Regions from separate parts of the Homo sapiens genome. Here region 2 is linked to region 1. The links come from fine-mapping of genetic effects on gene expression. Tissue or cell type: whole blood. Region 1 holds a variant in brackets; the other region holds the start of a gene. All regions are shown on one strand. Distances are between the middles of the regions.

Region 1 (8,202 bases):
GTGATTTGCCTGCCTTGGCTTCCCAAAGTGTTGGGATTACAGGCGTGAGCTACCGCGCCTGACCTTTTGATTACTTGCTTTTTAAGGACCCTTATTTTAAGTATTACTTGTCTATGTAACTGACTCCTCTTTACCTTTTCTCAAGTAGCCTATAGGCTGTGTCTTATTGATGTTGGCACTCCCTAACATGTACATAGGATAGTGTTCAGCATGTAGTAAATACTAAATAAATCATTGAACAGCATTGGTGCATAAATTGTCCCTATTCACCACCAGCACTAGAATGTAAGGTCCATAAGAGGCAGGGGTTTTTGTCTTTGTCTCTCTCTCTCTCTCTTTTTTTTTTTTTTTAAACCACTATATGGCCAGCACCTAGATTAATTCCTAGCATGTGGTAGGTCTGTGGTAAATATTTGTTAAATAAGTGAATACCCCTAAATAGTAAATTATCTCTGGGAGTGATGCTGTCAAAAAGGCCTTTGAATGTGAATGGGAAATTCAAAGCACCATATTATAATATACAACTAGACCACAAACAGTGAGGACAGAAACTGCCTTATTCATCTTTGGTTACCTCTTCTTCCTATCTAGAAACATAACCAGAAAAGGGCAATTTGAAATTTTTTCCTAGACCTACCATGATAGTCACTAGCCACAAAAATTGCCTGAAGTACCTACCATACCTGCTAAACATGAAACTTTCTTTTTGGCCTCCTTTTGTGTATAACCAGCTGTATCATGAGATTGCATCTACTCTGGGAAGAAAAGGCTGTTGGGCAAACTGTCTTGTACTTATGTTTAAAAAAGTAGAATAACCTAGGGCAGTAGAATCTCACTTTGAAGAAATGAAGAAGTGGAGGCCCATAATTATGAAATGATTCGTATAAATGTAAAACACTTAGAATTCCTGGCATAAATTGGCCTTCTAAATATTAGCTGTACTTTTTATTGCATATTGAAAACTTAGTCCTTCGGACTTTTTACTTCACTGCTTCCAATCCTTTTAAATTCTTCATTACCTCTAATCCTCTCAATTCTGTTGATAAGCAGTGTTACCCAACTTTACAAATAAAGAACCTGAATCTAAGATGAGGTTAAGTTGTTTGCCCAAAGGTCACAGCCAAGTGCTAGTTAGCTGGGATTCAAACCCAGATCTATCTTATTTCTTAAGCTCTTTCTAGGATGGCAAAATGACATGCTAAATGTAGGTTGAGTTTAATGTGTTCTATTATATCCTTCTAACCACTGTTAGTTGTAATGCATCTTTTGCCCCTGCCACCTTTGCTTCTCTTTTCTGATTTGTAGTCATTATTTTACTGTCCATATCATATATCTGTTTACTACTCTCTTCAGTTTTTCTCCTGATTCTTTGGAGTAGAAAGTATGCATTTTACCCAAAAGAAAAAGTACATCCTCACATACTGCTCTGTCCATTTTACTTTTACCTTTATTTTTTTTTTTTTAGCCTAATTGATTTGTACAGTGGATTGGTTTCCAGAGGAGAAGACTTGGATGTCTGTTATGAGTCAGATGAGTAAAGTTATACATTAGCCAGGATGACATTTAAGGGCTAATAGCCTACATCCCCAAACTAACAGTCATTTTAGCCAGTGTAAAACATGAAACACAAGTTGGTCAGAAATAGAGACAATAGCAAATAATGGTATTGAGTTGCTACAAATGCTTTGCAACCTAGTAATGTACTTTTATATGTATCAATTATTTTTAACTTGTGAATAATACTGAAAAATTCCAAATGGATTCCAGACATTTATTGCCAACAAAAATGTTTACTTAAACTTGCTGTTTTAGAGAATTATTTTTCTTAGCATATGGTCTTTCTTGTTAATAGCAAGCCTTTTAACAGTTTATCAGAATGTAAGCATTTCTCTTTGCTATACTTCTTTTAGTTGATGATCTTGTGTAATAGAGCACTCATTTAGAAATACACACACTTAAAATCTGTGATTAAATGGTCTTCAGGGACTAAAGCCACAAGCAGCAGGATGCTGTTGCTTTCTGTTTCCTTATTGCTTAACCAATCTGCAATGGTATCATCCTCTTTTTCCTTTTTCTTCTTCTTCTTCTTCTTCTTTTTTTTTTTTTTTTTTTGGTTAACCAGACAAAATTTCAAATCCTCTTTATTTTTTCTTGCCATGCTCAAATTGGTCTTTAACAGTGCTTCACTAAGATGCTTCTGTTTGACTTTACATTCACTTTTATTTAAGTAACAAAGAAAAGGGTGTGCTTTTGTCAATAAGTTTACACTGGGCTTTCTGTTATACAAAATAAGGTTCTTTTACATTCATCAGATCTTTGTTAATCACCCACTGTGCACCTAGCTGGGCTAGATAGATACTGGAAAGACAAATAAGACCTGGTTTCTGTCATTGAGAACATAGCGAAGGATATGGAAAATTAGACTACAGAATGGTAAGTTCTATCATAGTGGTATGTACTACAGAAGCAAAGAGAGGACTCCTTACCCAGACTTTTAGGGGATGAAGGACAATGTCAGGAAAGGCTTTCTGTGGGATGTTTTCTCTCAGTGGAGTCTTGAGAACAAATAGGAATTATTCAGGTAGAAGAGGGGAAGGACACTCTAGGAAAAGGGAGCAGCAGCCTGTTGAAAAAGTACAGAAGTAAGAGAGCACATACATGGCCCATTTAGGGAACTGAAGTCCTGAGTGGCTCGAGTAGGGGAGGAAAAGGTACATGAAGGTGGAACAGGGAATGAAGAGATTTGTGGCTGGGATGGTCCAAAGTTGTCAAATCATGATGTGCTTTCCATGTCATGCTCAGAAATTGATTCTAAGAGCCATGAAGAAGTATAAGCCAGGAAGTGACATGGTGAGATTTGTGTTTGGAAAGATCAGTCTAGAAACTGCAACATACTTCTATAAGTGTAAATGATCATCAGAGAAGATAATTAGAGGGCACTTACTGTCTCTTTAAATCTTTTCCATCATTAATTTTGGATTAAATGCTAGATAACATAATAATAGAGGGTTTATGAATTAGTTTCCTGTCTTCTGTTATTAAGCAAACATTTGAAACCTATTTTACTTGTTGGTATAACACATAGACTTAGATAATTAAAATTAGAGACTTGACAAAGCTACCAATTGGTGCTGGACCTCTTGATGGATCTGATGTTAGGTTAAACAAACACAAGTGCCTTCTGTATGCCAGGCAGTGTGCTAGGAACTGAAGAGAGAATGGTGAATGACTTAGGCATTCACAATCTAGTGGAGAGACAGATTCATACACAAATGCAAGTGCTCTAGAATA[C/G]TTATGTATTAGATTCCTTAATGTACATTTTCACTTTCAGTCCTTACCTTAAACTTAAATATGGATGAGGAAACCGAAGATAAGAAGTATTTAACTTACTCAAGATCATGTAATAATGAGTGGTACATAGCCACAATTCAGTATTCGAAGTACCTAACTCAATTTATTCCGTACCATATTATACTGCTTCTCTTGACAAGGCAATGCATATGTACTTTTGAGCCTGAAGTAGTTTTCTTCCTCTCTTTTCTTAATTCTTTCTAATGCTACCCAAACCGGTAATGTTCAGCCTTGAAGTATCCAGTCATTGTTGGTTAAAAGTGCAGGCTCTGAAGTCAGATTGTCTGGATTCCAATCCCAGCTCCATCACTTACTCCCTGTCTGTCAGCCTACATCATAGAATTATGAGATGATGTTGGTAAAGCACTTAAAACAGTGAAAGCACAGGGAAAGAATTCAATTGATGTTACTTAAAATTGTCATTGGAATAGCAATTCATCTACTTTCCAAACATTCAGGAAATTTTGATAAAATGCGTTTAAACTATCCAACTTTATTGAAGTTAATCTTGGTGAAGAGCTTTTGCCTAGTGTGCATATTTGAAATCTGACTTCTTGTTCAGGGCATCAGTGGCCTGTGGCAAAGATGCCCCAAAAGTATCTAGGAAAATATGCCTGTGAGAGTAACGTAAAGATACTTAAAAACTTTTGTATTGTGGAAAATTTTGAATATATACCAAAATTAACAGAGTAGGGTTATGACCTTTCTCATATCTCTCACCCACCTGCACAACCAACTATCACTCCATGGCCAGTCCTGCCTCATCCACACCCCTATCCATTTATGTTGCTAGAGCTAAATCTAGAGACTTGATTGATTGATTGATCATTTTTTGAGACAAGTAATGAAAAATGGTGGCTTTTTTTGTTGTTATTTCTGGCATTGTTAAATACCTAGTAACTCAACTGAGGATGAAAACTGGCAACATAAATACTCCTGGAATTGTTTGGATAGGGTAGGATACAGATTATTACCCAGTTTCTACATGTGAAGAAACTATGACTCAAAGAAATGCTTATCAATGGTCATATTAACTGCAAACAACTTGTGCTAAAATGTGTCATTGGAACCATGCTCATTCCATACATATTTATTGAGTTCAATAAAATATTTATATTTCTTTTTAAATGTCTGTGGCCAACATTATTTTTATAACAAGGGCATTTTTATTTTGATTACCTAATTTCTTCTTTTGTTATGTTAGAATTTAAAGTACTTCCCTCCTCCTCTGTCCTATCCTAATTTTTAGCTAGTGGAGTGACTTTAGGGATAATACAGAGGAAATTTTGGTCTCCAGCAGAGGGTCAGTTGCAACTATGAAAACAACTCAGGCAAATGGTCTATTGATAGTGGAACTTTTCATTATAAAAAGTTCTTTTCAAATTCCAGGATATTGGTTGCTTGGTCACTGAAGAGTCTGTACTACCATTCAGTAGCACCCTGGGTGTCTGAGCAGACCTGGTTAGGAATGTACTGCTCATTTTGAATGAAATAAATAAAAAGGATAGAGAAGCTGCCCCAAGCATTGCCAAACATTCTACATCTGATGTATCATTGATACAAAACATTAGTCTTTTAGAGTATACCCTAAAATACAAATAGTTTTCATTTTGAATGTTGCCATCTTTGACTATAGCCACATATCCTTTAATATATACACACACACACACTGACTCCAGGGCATTGATGAAAGTTCATTGCTTTCTTGGTCTCTGGGTGAGTAAAGTTGTTTTAATATGTCAGGTTTGGTTTTGTCAACAAAATACCCCAGTGTACTTACCTTCTTTATTCCCATTCTTTAATTTTTATGTCCTTGGACCTCGTAATTTCCCCAAAGTTTTGTATGCCATTCCCTCAGCAGCAGAAGTAATAGTGCTTGATGAAGTATGACTTTGATATTAGTTTAGTTATATATCTGGAATGTTTATTCCCCTGGGCTTTCCAACTGAGGGAGCCCAGCGTGAACTCCTTCTTTGGAAAATATCTGAGTGGGCAGACCCATTTGCCACATTACCCTCATTGTCTGTCTTTGTTTATTCAGCTGAAAAGCAAGTACTTGCCTCTTACACAGCCAGTCATGAATCTTAGAGTCTCAGAAGCTGTTAAAACGGGTAGAAAAATTGTTATGGGAAGGGAGAGGATGAAAATTGTTATCAGGTATTGACATAATGTGCAAGTAAAGGTGCTGTCTTAGAGAAGAGCATAATGACTTTAGGTGGTTATAAAGCACAACTCTGGCAACATTTTTATGGGCCCAATTTATTAGGGTCTTTGATTTTTATACAATTTTCCTACCTTCTGAGTAAGAGACAATGATAATTCATTGGCACACATGATTCATTTTTACTACAATAGGGGAAAAACTAGGTTTTTAGGATATGAGCCTACCATCTGGTGCACAGGTAATGATAAATATCCTGTGGTCATAATAACATGCACATGCTCTTGGCATTTATTTTTCTGGCTATCTTCATCTCTCAATTGGATTTTTTTTAGCAGGCTGCTAAAAAGTCTCTTTGCATTCATTCTTTCCCTGGTCCATTTTCACACTGTAGCCAGAATTATGTTTCTAAGATGTAGATCTGATTATTCTTCCTCTCTTGTATAAAATTCTTCCATGGCTATCCAGTTGCTCTTAGGAAAGTCCTTCACCTGTCACCACTTCTTACCCCATTCTGTGTCCCAGCCACAATGCACTTTTTCCAGTTCTCTATAGTACTATGCTCTCTTTTGCCTTGATGTTGTTACACATGCTGCTCCTTGCCTTGGGGATACTCCTCTCCTCTACCCTTAGCTTAGCTATACCTCCTCATTCTTCACGTCCATGCTTAGATATTTCTTCCTCTAGAAAGTCTGAATTAGGTGGTTCTCCATGTGCAAACACATGTACCATAATGTTCTATTCATATTTCTGTTTCAATACTTATCACACGATATTGCTTCTTTGTTTTTCTCTCTGCTATAAGACATTAAGCTGTATAAGAACAATGACCACGTCTGTCTTTCTCATTGTTGTATCTCCAGCACCTAGAAATTGTAGTCTGTATTTCTGGCACAACACTAGTTTGTTGATGATTGAACCAGTGATTAATGTGCTTTGCCAGGAATCTTTTCTCTAGAAACCTCAGAGAAGAATTACAGTTCTCTGGTTTTGTGCTCTGCATATTTTTCTATCTTCTATTCATACTAATTCAATTATCAACAGAACATTGCTTTGAACCTTTTAAACCTCTCTACCTTGCCCAGAAGCACGTGTAAAGAACATGTAAAATGAAAAACTCCTGCATATACTTACCATACGCTTCCTATGTCCATCCTATCTAAAATTGCACTCCCACAACACACATGTAGTTACTCTCCACCTCCATCTCCCCTGTCTCCCTTTCCTGCTGTTTTTCCTCCTTAGGATTTAACTACCTTCTAACATACTAAATACTTAACCTATTTAAGTAACTAATTGTGTGTCCATTTCTAAGATGTAAGGTCCATGAGGGCGTTAATTTTGGCCTGTTTTGTTTACTGCCACATCCCTAGCATCTGAAATAATGTTTAGCAGGTATATATGAGGCAATATATATTTGCTGAATGAATGAATATATTCATGCCCTTGGATGTATGTCTTTTTCTTTTTCACTTGATTTTGGTGCACCTGATACAGCCCTGCTGTTAGCACTACTGTTTCTTTTCCTTCCTTATTTTGCAGACTTTACAGTTAGTCCTATTTGGGTCCATAATCTTGGCTACCCCAGGCAGAGATTCTGTTTTTCCATGTTGATTGGCCCAGGTAACCATATCTTCACTTGAATCTGACCTTCAAATCTCCTAACTTGATCTCTGAAGCCCTAAGAGAAGTTGTGTGTGCGTGCGTGTGTGTGTGTGTGTGTGTGTGTGTGTGTGTGTGTGTGTTGCGGAGAGGAGATGATGCATTCAGAGATAAGTCAGATGCAAAACTTGTTCTTTTAAAACCTAGATAGGACAAATAGATGATTATTTCTATAGTACAAGTTTGAGTACGATGATATTTGTTTATGAGAAATGCTAACCAATGGGGAGAAACTTATTCTTCATTTTAAAAAATATGAAATAAGTTTTCTGAAAAGTATAAAAAGTAATATAGTGAACATCCCCTGTATACCTGCCTCCCAGCTTTGTAATATCTGAATTTTCTCCTGTATTTGCTTTGGATTGTTTTCATTTTTGAGATAAAATATTAAATATGATCATAGCCTCCTGGTGTTCTTTTTTTTTTTTTTTATCTCTTTTTCTTTCTTCCCTACCCAGATGTAACCACTATCCTGAATTTGGTGCCATGCATTTAAAAATGTTTACACACACACACACACACACACACACACACACACACACAGTGTTGTGTTCATGTTTCAAATTTTGTATAATGAACTCTTACCATGCTTTTTTTAAACTCACCATTTTATTGAGATTTTTCTATATTGTTCCATGTAATTCTGCTTTATCAAGTTTGCTGTATAGTTTCCTACTGTATGAATAGTCCACAATATCTCATTTTTCTTATTGATAATCATTTGAGCTGATTCTACATTTTTTGCTTTTTCAAGTAATGCTGCAATGAACAACATTGCACATGTTTTCTTCACTTGTAGGTGAGTTTCTCTAGAGCAATACGTCTCAATTAATGTGCATAGGAATCACCTGAGTACCTTATGATACTGCAGGTTCTGATTCAGGTCCTGATTCAGTTGTTCTCAGGTGGGCCTGAGAATCTATATTTCTCACAAGTTCCCAGGTAATGCAGATCCATAGACCATATTTGGAGTTGCAAGGCACTGCTAGGTTCTAGAATATGCACATTCTTCTCTGAAGAGGTTATAC
Region 2 (8,176 bases), 100 kb before region 1:
TGCATAGGAGAGTGGGTGCTGATCATGTTACAGCTAGAGTGAATCCAGAACAAAGAACAGACAAAGCAAACCTCTTCAAATGCTTCCAACCCTGTGTACTTCATGAAACTGACCCCATGTCTTTATGCTGAGTTCCTGGTAAAGTGTGTGTGGAAGTTCAAAGAACAGTTACCCAGATCACTTCTCCATAGCATCATTGCACAAGTAGATATATCCTATACTTTTTTTTGGAGTGCATCTCAAGAAACCAAACAGCTGGAGTAATGCCTGCTCCCTGGTACATACACATGCAAAAACTGTACTAGACATAGAGGAAGATTTTTCATCCCTAGTGGGTGCATTATTTTCTCCCAAAGAAACATCATATGGTGAGGTCTGGTGTATGGCTCATTGGGAAGGATTCAGAATCCCTAGTATTGGCTATGCAAGCACTTTACTAAATCAATTTTAAGTCATCTAAACTACCTCCCCAGGCAAGTTTAGCTCAAAATGGAAGACAACATACAGTCCACTTTAGCCGGAATTGAAGAAACTAAACATTTGATGTTTTCTCCTTTCCTGGAGTATGCATGTGTAGGAATTATCCCAAACATCATTTCTACCAGCAAGTTTATTTCGAGAAAAGAAACAACATTCAGCATATTTTCATGTTCCTGTCACACAAGCAATTATACTGAGCATTCTTTTCTCATGCCAGGCTATATTTCGTCCTTTCCTTCAACATCCAACATGTTGATCTTCCTATCTGCCATTTACAACAGCTTTTGTAATTATTTGGCCAGGAATAACTTCTTATATTTAAAGTTGGCTATGTTTTCTCAGCAACCATCATACAATCTTGAAAATCTTTACAAAGTGGGAAAAATCTAACCTAAAAATATCAAATGAAAGGGAATTTTTACATATTCTGAATTTAACAATTCAATAGGTCTTGTATTTAATTAAATATTACGTCCACTTTGCAATTTAAAAATTTTTTTATAGTCATGAATTTTGCTCCTGGATCCCCTCTGGGCTTAAATTTGCACAATTTGGTTTCTTTGTTATGAGAGGTCCAAACAATATTATCTCTGGGGCAGCTCCATCTGGACTTTTCAATTTGATTCATCAAACTGTACTGGGGTTGAGAATGTTTGCTCCAAAGAGATATGGGTGCTTGATTTTCTTGATTACCCTGGTACTGCCTTCCCTTTCATAGAGAGTATCCAATCTGTATATCTGTCTTCCTAAATGTCTTATAATGCTGTGATCAGTCACGTTCTGACTTAGAAGTCTAGAGTGACATCCTGTTGCTTAGCAAATCAAATTTGCTCTCTTGAGACCTTACTTTTAGGACACCGTAGTTGACTTCCACCCCACATAATCAATTTTTATTTCCCATGTTTCAAGTACCCTAAATGAAGTCAGGATGCTTGGAACCTTGGCCATGCTCTACCATCTACTGGATATGTGTCTCTCTTATTGTCTATATTATTGGACTGTGCTATCAAGCATGGTAGCCATTAGCCTCATGTGGCTATTAAATTAAAATTAAATAAAATTAAGAATTTAGTTCATTTACATCAGGTACTTTTCAAATGTTCAGTAGCCACAAGAGACTAGTGACTGCCTTATTGGACAGCACCAACAGAACAACTCCATCACTGGCAAAAAGCTTATTGGACAGTGTTGGTATAAGATGTATGTGAATGTGCGTGTATGCATGTATGGCTTAGGAACCCTTACAGAGAAACAAGGATAACTTGTGCGCTGGGCATTGTGGTTCACCCCTGTAATCCCAGCACTTTTTGGGAGGCCCAGGCAGGTGGATCACTTGAGCCTAGGAGTTCAAGACCAGCCTGGGTAACATAGCGAAACCCTGACTCTACAAAAATACACACACACACACACACACACACACACACACACACACACAACTAGCTGGGCATGGTGACACGCGCCTGTGGTCCCTTCTACTCAGGAGGCTGAGGTGGGAGGATCGCTTGAGCCTGGAGAAGTCGAGGCTGCAGTGAGCCAAGATCGTGTCACTGTACTCCAGCCTGGGCGACAGAGTGATACGTTGCCTCAAAAAAAAAAAAAGGATAACTTGTGCTCTGAAGTCGGTTTGGGTTGAAATCCTATGACAGCCATTTACTATGACCTTAGGCAAGATGCCTAAACCTCTTTTGATTTCAGTTTCCCCATCTCTAAAAAGGGGCCTAATAATAGTTACTAGCTTGTGGGGTTGTTGTGGGAACTGAGTGAGATGGTACACAAAAAATGTTGAGAAAGAGTGCGTGGGATTTTTTAGCTCAGTTTTAGTTCTTGACGCCAAAAGGTTTGCATGCTTCATTTCCTTCAATCCTCAGAGCCTTCGGATGGGGACCTCACTATAATTGCTATGCAGATGAAGCAAAGTCTGAGAGGTTAAGTAACCGGGCCACAGCCAGAGTGTAAACGTTGTGATTCATTCAAATCTACATCACTTGACTGTCTCTTTTCATTCAACAACCTCCTTACCTTGCTTTATTTTTCTCCTTTGCACGAGCCTTAGTTTATCTGTCTTCCTCCTCCTAATAGATGTAAGGCCCAGGCGGTCAGGGGCTTTTGCGTTTTTTGTTCACTAACCCTATCCCCTAGAACAGCGTTCGGGATAAAGAGGTGCCCAACAGGTTGTATGAATTTGGACACGTCTCTTAACTTCTCTAAGCCACAGCTCCCTCTCCTCCGTAAAATGAGGATAATAAGAAAAACTACTGCAGAGCTGGTGCAAGATCAGATTGGAGGAGGGACATAAGCGCGCTGTGCAAACCTGGATGTACGGTACGAAAGGAACCTCCGTTCTAGGTTGCACCCAGCCTAAGCACCGTGAGGGCCGCGCGGCACGCGTTCAGCTTCCCGGGACGCTCTTCTCCCCACCCCTACTCCCGGCCTCCAGCCTCCCACCACCCACCTCCGGGCGGGGACCGGAAGTGCAGCCGCTTCCGCCGGGAGCCGCGGAGCTGAGGGACGCGCGGAGATGACGCAGGCAGCACCGGAAGCCGCTCCCCTGTGAGGCTGCGGACCGGGAGCAGCGGCCGCAGGTCCGGGTCTGTATGCGAGGCGGGGCCGGTCGGGGAGGGGACTCTTAGGCGCCCGCGGCTCTGCTGACCCGCCGCGCCTTGGCTGTTTTTCTTTCCCTGCAGGCGCCATGGCTGCGGAGCGGACCCGGCCGCTGCAAGGCTCTGGCGGTCCGAGCGTGCCTAGTAGCTGTGAACCCGGCGCGAGGTCCCGGGCCCCGGGGCGCTCGCTCAGGTCAGTGCCGCGCGGAACACGATTCCGAGAGCAAGGGACCTGGGAGCAACGAATGGGTTGATGGGATCTGGATTTTAGAGACGGGAAAACAGGGTTTTGGAGTTACTGCCTCCTACTGCCTCCATTTCCTTAGCTGCGAAATGAGTTAACAGTGATGTCCCAGGGCTACCAAACGTTTGAAAGACGATGAAGTGTGATGAGGTGGTTTATGAAGTACAAAGCGCTATACTGCGCCATAATTGTGGGTATGCCATGAAAACAGGTGTGTATGTGGGGTGCTGCTTGAAGTAAAGCAAAGATAACAATATTAATGCTAAGTAATAATGGTAACTGACATTTACTGTAGGCTTACAGCGTGCCGAGTACTGTGCTAAACGCTTTACTTGCACTGTCTTGTTTAACCCTCATAAAAACCCTTGTAGGTAATGCTCTTGGCTGTATTTTACAAGTGAGGAAACAGGGCATGAGACAGGTGAAGTGATTTGCCCAAGGTCACCCAGCAACAAGTGGAGTTGCAGAACACATATTTTATAAACATTATTTGTATTCTTTCAAAGCTTTAAAAAAATTCACCTTAAAACTAAAGGCTATTTTTTGATAGTATATTATACTTAACATGGTTTTCAGTTTTAAAAGGTATACAATAAAAAGGGACCCCTCATTCCTATTCTGCAGCTCTCCAGTTCTCTCTGGAGGCAACCAGGGTTATCAGTTTCTTGAATATTCAGAATACATTTTATGCATATGTAAGTTTATAGGTGTGTATACATTTTCAGCGCCTCTGTGCTCTTTGTTTGATAAGAAAAGGGGGAAATGAAGCCTCCTTCCCTCTACCACTAACAATTATGTTGCTTTCACTCTTGACTAGGCCAGGTTCTGATAGAGGAGGAGGGGAAAACACATTTACACTGTTTTCCAGAAGGTCCTGTCTCTAATACCTCTGAGTATAGGTTTTGGGAGAATGGGTACTGGGCAAAATATTGAGCCTGCTACTTCCTGTGCCATTCTGGGAAGGCCACTCCACTTCTTGAGCCGTAAATTTCCTCATTAATGTTAGTTAAGGGCGGCATTACTGATACCTTCCATGAGGTTATGAAGATGAAATGAGATAATGTTTACCAGTGGTACTTTTTCTTTAAAACCAATATAAATATGTGAGTTGCCTAGGTAACATAGGGAGTTAATGGCAGAACCTGAGACCAAACCCAGGCTCTCATTTTCCAATTTAGGAGTCTTTTTGTTGCATGACCCACTTTGTGATTATTGATACTGAAGGCAAGAGGGCAAGTTGAATGTTAACTCTGGGGTAGGGACGTAGGGTAAGGGGGCCAAACAGCAGGGAATGTGGGTAGAATAAGGCACCTACTGGGAAACTAGAGCCTCCAATAAACAGGTGCTCTTCTTTATAAAATTAAACCCCTAGTAAGTTTGAGCCCTTGAGTTTTTCTTCCAGGTATTTTGAAGAGAAACTTAGTGATAAGATGATAGGGTCAAAAGAGATGTTAGTGGTCATGTCCATTCCACCCTTAGTGTCACAGAAATCTTTACTGCCAGGTGTTCATAGTAGTAAAACTAACAAAAAGTACCATTTGAGTTTTTACCCGCTAGACTGTACACTGTGCTAAGCATGTCCCTGCTATATTTCTGAGTTTCACCCTTCAAGTTGGATGATGGCTTCCATTTTACAGATGATAAAACTGAAGCTTAAAAGTTAGTTGGACATGCCCATAATCACATAGGAAGTGGCTGAATCAGTAAAACATCTGGCCAACCTCCAAAGTATTTTCATTTATCACATTCTGCCTCTGTGTCCAACTGTCCTTGACTGTTCGTGGTAATGGGAAACTCACTACTCTGGAGGTAGCTATTCCATTGTTGGAAAGCGCTGAGATTTAAAAGCTCCTCATGTTGAATTGAAATCCCATTTCCTGAGGTTTGTGCAACCAGTGTATGATATTTCTAGAGGCTGCCTAAAAGAGTCCAGTTTAGACCTGTTACCTTAGAAGGCCCCCTCCAAAGTTAGTTGATCTGTTCAGAAAAGTAAAAATTGGTGTTTTTTAAATAGTGCATTCTGCAGTTAGTGAGACTTGCTTTTTTAGGGAAAAAAATGCCTTTTTCAGAATAATCAGAGGTGAACTGCTCAATCTTACAAGGGATTGAGTGGTTTAAAAGGCAATCTAAGAGTTGGGAAAATTTTTTTTATTAAGAGTTAGGAGAATATATAAATCTGAGACATGGCTGAATTTTTTTAGATGTGCTCTCTGAAAAAGCTTCTTCCGTAATCTTTAGCGGTGTCATGGGCACATTAATTTGGCATTTTTTTTTTAAATTTAAGTTCTAGGGTACATGTGCACAACGTGCAGGTTTGTTACATAGGTATACATGTGAATTTGGCATATTATAGTATGTCTCTTAGATATTTGTGAATGATGGGAACCTGATAATATTTTAATGAGTATTCTAAATTTGCCTTGTAGCCGTTTGAATAACAGTTCAGCTCACTTAAATACAAGCATTTCTACAATAGATGTGTGTCAGCATGTGTATGTATGTGTGTATATATGTATGTGTAGATGTGATGGAGGAAGCTTGCCACACCACACTTTTCACTGTTAAAAATGTTTCAGGAGCAGGTGTGTGGTTTTTTTTCTTTTTTTTCTTTTTTGAGATGGAGTCTTGCTCTCTCGCCCCGGCTGGAGTGCAGTGGCGTGATCTCGGCTCACTGCAAGCTCCGCCTCCTGGGTTCACGCCATTCTCCTGCCTCAGCCTCCCGACTAGCTGGGACTACAGGCACCCACCACCATGCCAGGGGAATTTTTTGTATTTTTAGTAGAGATGGGGTTTCACTGTGTTAGCCAGGATGATCTCGATCTCCTGACCTCGTGATCCGGCCGAGCCCACCTCAGTCTCACAAAGTGCTGTGATTACAGGCGTGAGCCACTGTGCCCAGCCTGGTGTGTGTTTTTAATTGACCAGTATTAATTAACTAGCTATTGTGACAATATGCAGATGCCCACAGAAGATAATTGCTTTGTCTTGTTGCAAATTATTATTTTTTAGAAGTAGAGATTTTGAAGAAATGTTGTATAGATAAGAGGGTTGTTAGGATTTAGAGGAAGGAGGGGGCTTGTTATTGCGTGATAAGTCGATAAAACTTTTAGCCATCTGATTATTTTTTGTCAGCTAGGTAAATTTTTAATACAGATTAATAAATCTTCTCTAGCCCAAACTTTGGCTTGAAACGTATTATCTTGAAGTCTAGTCACAGTTCCAGAAATCAAAACTGTTAGCAGATGATGTGATTGCAAGGTTTGGTTGCTTCTACTAATAAATCAGATTGCTTATTTGTCTAAGAATGTTATTGCCAAATTTGATATTGGACACTTACAATTTTACTCACCTTACATTATCAAAGTTGAAAGATGAGATCTTGCTTTTTGTGTAGACCTGATCTAGGTGATATGTCTGGAAAGAAATTAACTTTCCTTTTTCACATTAATTTGGACATATGTTTTTAAAATTAATATGACAGTCTTGTGAGAAACTGAGTATTCAGAAGGAAAGTTTTTATTAAACCATGGAAATATTTAAATATATGGAAATAAAGAGAATAATAAATCCCTATGTACACATCACCCAGCATTAACATCTATCAACACATAGTCTTGAGAAAGATAGTTTTTACTGGTTATATTTTTTGTAATCTTTCATTAGTCTAATCCTCATTAAGAGTGAATTAACACCTGTTGACACTAATACAGGATACTTTAAAAAAAATTATTTGTTACAGTTAGCTCAGGAGCAATTTGTCATTCTCCTAAAGGAGAAAATGGTCTAACGGGTAGACACACTACCTCCAGATCTTACCACTTGGTCGTGGTTCTCCTGGTTGTCACTTATTTTAGAGAGAGAGCTTGGTACCTGATCTTGAGAGCACTGGCGTCCAGTCTGTTCTGTGGCTATTTAGTAGCCCTGTGAATATAGGCAAATCACATACCTTCTCTAACCTGTAGTTTCCTCATTTGCAAAGTGAAGATGATAATGTCTATTTTCTGGTGTTTTATAAACATCAGGATTATTAATTTGCTTTATTTGTGCAGGCCTCCAGGACCCCTCATGGCTCTCGGGGGCACGTGGTTAAGAGTTGTCACTAGCTCATATGAGGTTTAGAAAAACAGACTAAAGCCACATAAGTTCTTTTATAATTCATGTTCTAAACAGGCAGTGCCATAAAGAAGTTGGAAGAACCAGAATTCCTGAGGCAGATAACTTACCACACCTGCTTTTCTTCCCTAAACCTTTTCATCTGAACATCTGTTGCAAAACCAAGTAGTCAGTTCTATGATTTTGGTGACAGGTTGTGCCTGCCATGACAATCAGTGTCTCAGGTTACTGCTCAGGAGACTGTTTCTGATTGTCACATCCTGGTGCTTGCTTTTGTGATTTTAGTACCCAAATAGAATGTATTAAGGAATTCATTAAGGAAATTGTTTTATAATGGTTTTGATGGGGGAAGGGTGTATTGTAAAATATACTGTTTTATAATGAATTGTTGGTAAATCTATTACTATGAAGATGCATGTAGCACGTGCTAGACTTCAAGAGGAATAAGTCACACACGCCAGTCTGTTTCACTGACATGTTTTGGATTCATGATTTGTTAAAGTATGTTTTCTCAAATGTGTTTTCTTTTGTGTGCATGGAAAGTGTTCAGATAAATATGGTGTATTAACTGTAAAGTTGTAATGTAACTACGCATAAAGTTGTAATGGCAGATTTTTTACACTAATTTTTAATACTTCATTTGTTAGCAGTCTTGCTTGAACAGTCTTTTTGAGCAGAACTAATACAATATTTTGATGTGCCACAGGTAAATTTTTCCATAACCTTATGGAGAGAAAGG

Evidence for each region. PIP is the estimated chance that this variant, and not a neighbour inherited with it, causes the effect.
Region 2: FBXW2 starts here. The variant in region 1 is fine-mapped to the expression of FBXW2 in whole blood (TOPMed, PIP 0.93).

The regions. Positions count from the first base shown.
Region 1 is chr9:120,687,186-120,695,387 of GRCh38, reverse strand. The region is part of intron 1 of MEGF9 (multiple EGF like domains 9); the gene reads left to right. Among named protein-coding and RNA genes, the nearest start is that of MEGF9, 23 kb to the left of the region's middle. RefSeq lists an enhancer at 1,839-2,649. The variant C/G (reference allele first, on the strand shown) is at 3,292.
Region 2 is chr9:120,788,246-120,796,421 of GRCh38, reverse strand. It overlaps FBXW2 (F-box and WD repeat domain containing 2), which reads left to right and starts at 3,006. Exons shown (of 8, transcript NM_012164.4): 1 at 3,006-3,068; 2 at 3,165-3,273; 3 at 8,144-8,176. The coding sequence starts at 8,164. It overlaps B3GALT9 (beta-1,3-galactosyltransferase 9), which reads right to left and starts at 2,955. Exons shown (of 3, transcript NM_001386823.1): 1 at 2,500-2,955. RefSeq lists enhancers at 1,993-2,082, 2,513-2,612, 2,675-3,305.